2 separate regions of the Homo sapiens genome follow, and region 1 is linked to region 2. The links come from fine-mapping of genetic effects on gene expression. A gene starts in region 2. The other region holds a variant in brackets. All regions are shown on one strand. Distances are between the middles of the regions.

Region 1 (3,027 bases), 48 kb after region 2:
ACTAATTTAATGAATATTTTTAAGTTTGAATGATGCCTGATTTTCTGCTGACTAAAAAATATTTTCTTCTTTCACCTCCCAGAGAACTTTTAATTACCAGAAATGTTTTGCCAACTTTGTTTTATTTTCATGTGGTTATTAGTTGGATCTAGCAAAAGAAAAGAGGGACAAAAATAACTAGTGGCAAAGCACTTTCTTGGCCTGTGTGACATTAGGTTTGTAGTCACAGCCAGTATTTCAGATGCTTGCTGCTGCTAGCATTGTATTTGACACAGATCTGAAGGCCACATAAAATGCTCTTTATTTTTACCTGGTACAATTATCTTCTAACCACATTTCTGCGTATCATAGATATAATCTCTTCCATGTAGTAATAGGGCATTTTTCAGCGCTCTGATGTTTCTGTGTCTTTCTTGTAATAAAGTGTATCTGTCATTAGTAATTATTATCTATTCTTCCAGTAGGATGCAGTTGGGAGGTTATTTTCTCTCATTCGGTTATCGTGCACTTTTACTTTAAATCCAGTTTCTCTTGAAAAAATGCAGTTTTGCTCCAGGCGCAGTGGCTTAAGCCTGTAATCCCAACACTTTGAGAGGCCGAGGCGGGCGGATCACCTGAGGTCAGGAGTTTTGAGACCAGCCTGGCCAACATCGTGAAACCCTGTCTCTACTAAAAATACAGAAATTAGCCAGGTGCGCCAGTAATCCCAGCTACTCGGCAGGCTGAGGCAGGAGAATCGCTTGAACCCAGGAGGCAGAGGTTGCAGTGAGCCGAGATCATGCCACTGCACTCCAGCCTGGGCGGTAGAGCCAGACTCGTCTCAAAAAACAAAACAAAACAAAAAAAAAGTGCAGTTTTGAATGTTTACCTTTTTATTTGATGCTTAAATCTTCTGTGCTTTAACACCTTCATTGTGATCTTTTCTGTTTCTCCTTTGCCAGTCCCCAAAGAACAGCTTTACTGCCTGATGTCAAATCTAGTCAAGAGTTCAGTCCTTAATTCTAGTTCTGGTCCAAATTAATTGGGATTTATTTTGGTAAAATTAATATATTTAGGTAATATGCCAAAAATGTGGAAAGTAATCCAGAGCTGCTAATCTTTATCTGTTTGTACCTGCCGTTCTCCCTCTCTCTGTCCTTCCTACCCTCTCTTCCTCTCACAATTTACTAAATTCTAAGAAAGCGGAGGGAACCAAATAATATTTTGTCAGCTAAACCTTCTAGTGAAAAATAAGGACAGCTAGAAATTAATGGCATTCATTAAATTTGCCTGAAGCAAAGTTATTTGCTTGAACTACTAAATTTATAAGTCTTTCCAACTCCAAAATTCTAACTTTTAACATATATGTAGTTGTGAAAATGTGAAAACGTACAAAAAGGCTAAAGTTAGAAATTATTCGTAATCAGAACACTTGAAAGTAACATGTTAAGTTTTTAAAAAAAAATTGTTTCTAAACACTAAGTACATAAGAGTTTTCTCACTATATTTTGTCACATAGATACACCACCTTCTCCATTATCAGGAACAATATTTGTTTTATTTGTCCGTCATCTGACTCTCCCAGCCAGAATGTAAAATTCATGGAGGTGGGGATTTCTTGTTTGTTTTTTGCTATACTGCACTGCCTAGAACAGATACCTATAAGCTCTCAATAATAGTTATTGAGTAAAGTAATTTATGAACT[G/C]TTTTGCACAGACTTCAGAACTCATGATTTCTGAGAAAACCCCCATCTTACCTCCGTTTTTTATTTTAATCCCAAGCACCCACATCTAGACAACCCTCTGAAAGGTATTAAGAAAAACAAAACTACCCTACCTTCTCAGAAATTGGTTTTTATGGAATTCTATTTATGGCTTATATAAGAAATAATAACCATCGGCCAGGCACGGTGGTTCACGCCTGTAATCCCAGCACTTTGGGAGGCCGAGGTGGGTGGATCACGAGGTCAGGAGATCGAGACCACCCTGGCTAACACGGTGAAACCCTGTCTCTACTAAAAATACAAAAAATTAGCCGGGTGTGGTGGCGGGCGCCTGTAGTCCCAGCTACTCGGGAGGCTGAGGCAGGAGAATGGCATGAACCCAGGAGGCAGAGCTTGCAGTACTAGCCGAGATCACGCCACTGCACTCCAGCCTAGGCAGCAGAGCGAGACTCCATCTCAAAAAATAATAATAATAATAACTATATTTATAGTACCTTTATTTTTTTTTTCAAGTAAACTTCAGAAATGGTTTTTCTTTTCTTTAAAATGCTCTTTTAGGGAGATAGACAGTATTCATATTTTCGGATTTAGAAAGCCAAAAAAAGCCTATTTTAATGGCTTTCTTAACAACAACAATATTGGCTTTTTTTTCTTTCTTTCTTTTTTTTTTTGAGGCAGAGTCTCACTCTGTCGCCCAGGCTGGAGTGCAGTGGTGCGATCTCAGCTCACTGCAAGCTCCGCCTCCTGAATTCACGCCATTCTCCTGCCTCAGCCTCCCGAATAGCTGGGACTACAGGCGCCCGCCACCACCCCCAGCAAATTTTTTTGTATTTTTAGTAGAGACGGGGTTTTACCTTGTTTGCCAGGATGGTCTCGATCTCCTGACCTCGTGATCCACCCTCCTCGACCTCCCAAAGTGCTGGGATTACAGGCATGAGCCACAGCGCCCGGCCTAAAAATGGCTTTTTAAATTAATGCAGCAAATTATTGGTAGAACTGGGGATTTTTAAGTTATTTGTTAAAGGGCACAGCAGAAATGCTACATTTGAGTTATATCTCAACTCAAAGAAAAATTATTGTGAAAAAATGATAAACTGTTCAAAATGCCTTTTATTGGCTAAAGACAAAATACCTTTTTTTTTTTTCCCCCTTTCTTGTAAAAAAACCAGACTGGCATAAAGATACCAAAATAGAATTTAAAACATTTATTCCTAATAATTGCTACTCTGAGACTACTTTGCTATTTTTAAATTTCTAGTTTTACTTTAAGTATTCCTTACAAAAAAAAATAGTGGGGGGGGTGCTTTTAATCATTATAAGGAATA
Region 2 (2,500 bases):
TTATTTCAAGCTTTAAACTCGAGGTTCTGATACAAATTACCCTTCAAGACTTTTCTTTAATCCTAGAATGCCCAACTTCTAGCTAAAATCTTCCACTCTGTTTCATAATTACTGTTCTACCCTTATTATCGTAACCCAGCTACTCATCCCAATAATGCTGCACATCTATACTGGTATATCTGTAACCGTGCAGCACTCTTACCTTCTTGAACCAACAAAATCAGCCTATCTCCGACCTCAAAGTAGGGCAGCAGTAAGGAGGTGGGAATAAACATTTGAAAATGAATATTTCCACTAACTAGTAAATGTGGCCAAAATACTATTGAAAATACCATTCAAAATGCATGAATTTTAGCTCAGTTTTTATATAGTTCTGAAGAAGTACCAATACTATTTTGGCATTTCGTAGCACCAACCACGTCCGAAGCGCTCCAACTTTCAAGTCTGAGCTTGTCTCTGAAGAAGTTGCCCGTGCAGCCTCCATGAATACCACACACCAAATACTAACTGCTTTTTAACAGATCCAGCAACGCTGCTGTTTCCATTTTCTCCATCCTATTTATGCCCACATGAACTTTTTTCTTATTAGATAATTAGTAACTTGAAGGCAGAGACCTGTTTTACAGGCTGCAAACCCCAGGGACCGAGACAGCACTTAACGCCTACAAGGTCCAAACCGACGCCAACGATTAAGCGCACAAAGGAAAGGTGTAATATACATCATTTCGTTTAGTCCTCCCTGCAGCCTCATGTAGTAGTTACTATTAATCAACCCCATTTCACAGGTGATCAAAGGTAAGCTCAGAAAGGTGAAGTTGCCTGCCCAGGTCACAAGGTAGGACCAGGATTCCAAGCCTGATCGGTCTGGATACGAACGCTCTACCCACGCGGCTTTCCCCCTACACTCTCGGGATCACCACACACTTCCCCTTGGCTTTTACACCGGAGGCTCGACCTGGGTCCCGGAACCAGCGAAGCCACTGGGCAAGCCTAGAGGCCTCTACAGAGGCTAGAGACGCCTCGCCCCACCAGATGCATTAGGATGAAACGCGCCGAACCGAAGGTTTAGAGCGCCAGGGGAGAAGAGGGGCGGGGAGAGCAGGCTCTTTGACCCAGAGGAGGGAGGATCTCCACACCCGGCCACTCTGGCGCTGGGGCGCAACACTGAGGCCGGCGGGAAGCCGAGCCTGCCCGCGAAGAGACTGGGGATTCCGAGGCGGCTCCTGGGAGACCGGACGCGCGCGGCCTCCGCCGCTCCCAGTCCCGCCAGACCCGATGCCGGGCTGGAGAAGCGCGGGGGCCGACGCACCTCGGATAGGCGGGGGCAGGGGCAGGGGCAGCTCTCCTTTACCCTAGAGCGGCGACAGAAGCTCTTCGGGGGATCAGTGGCCAAGGGGGCGGACAGATTTGCACGGCGGATTCCTCCGAAGCAACCCGTGTGAAAGAAGCCAAGCGGCGGCTGCAGCCCGGGCCGCGATGGGGGTGACACCGCCCGTGGTCCCGCCCCTTCCCGTGGCCCCTCGGAGCCACTTCCGGCGGCAGCGTCCGGGCTAGTTCCCGGCGCGAGCGGCCGCGGGCCAGTTTCTATCTCCTCATCCAGGGCTTGCGGGCGAGGCCTGTTTTAAGTCTCCAGTAACCGAGCGGAGGCCCGGCAGGCGCGACCCGGGCTGCGTACGTCAGAGCTGCCTCCGAAGTGGTAAAATGTGCTGCGAGAAGTGGAGCCGCGTGGCGGAAATGTTTCTCTTCATTGAGGAGCGGGAGGATTGTAAGATACTGTGCCTTTGCTCCAGGGCATTTGTGGAGTAAGTAGAAAAGAGAATCTCTTCATGTTCTAGCACAGTCATTACCCAGAAATGTAGGTATTGCAAACGTGGTTGTAATTGATCCCTGAAAGCAGCCAGAACATCTGACCCTTGGGCACGGTGATGTTTAAGAAAAACAAAACCCTCAGACATGACGGAGTGGTCGCCCACTGCCATTATTTTTATGTGAAGGACTACATCTACTTGGTAGGCTGCTATGAAAAAATGTCGTAGGTGCTATATGTCATCTCATATTTGTAAATCGAGGGGACATTTAAAAATTGGGGGAAAGCGACATGTAAAATGAAATCTCTAGTAGATATGATGTCATAAAGTGAAAGTTTAAAGTTGAGTGACTTGCTTTGGTTAACGTCTTTTTTTAAACCTAAAAATCTACTTAAGCCCAAATGCACATAATTAAAACTTCAAACTAGTTGAGATAAAAGACTTAACCATATTTACATCAGTTTTTGTGATATCTTTATTTTGGGGAAATCTTTGAATCAGGTAAAAATTGCCCCACATGAAAAATAGCTAGTATGCAGGAATAATACCGCCAAGAGACTTGAATTCTAGGAATTGTTTCCTTTATATTAAATGCGTGAGTTAAACCACTTGAACCTTTTTTTCATCTCTATAACGGGTATATTTAATCTCACATGCTTATTTTGTTAGAGTTAAATCCTTGTGGAAGTGAA

The links. PIP is the estimated chance that this variant, and not a neighbour inherited with it, causes the effect. A credible set is the group of variants that fine-mapping cannot tell apart.
Region 1: its variant is the best candidate, but not a certain one, in a credible set for the expression of TGS1 in regulatory T cells (Schmiedel 2018, PIP 0.55).

What each region holds. Positions count from the first base shown.
Region 1 is chr8:55,819,715-55,822,741 of GRCh38, forward strand. The region is part of intron 12 of TGS1 (trimethylguanosine synthase 1); the gene reads left to right. Among named protein-coding and RNA genes, the nearest start is that of TGS1, 48 kb to the left of the region's middle. The variant G/C (reference allele first, on the strand shown) is at 1,685.
Region 2 is chr8:55,771,918-55,774,417 of GRCh38, forward strand. TGS1 (trimethylguanosine synthase 1) reads left to right here and starts at 1,529. Exons shown (of 13, transcript NM_024831.8): 1 at 1,529-1,802. The coding sequence starts at 1,702. TMEM68 (transmembrane protein 68) reads right to left here and starts at 1,461. Exons shown (of 8, transcript NM_001286657.2): 1 at 1,352-1,461. RefSeq lists enhancers at 363-866, 1,638-1,967 and silencers at 1,088-1,217, 1,308-1,497.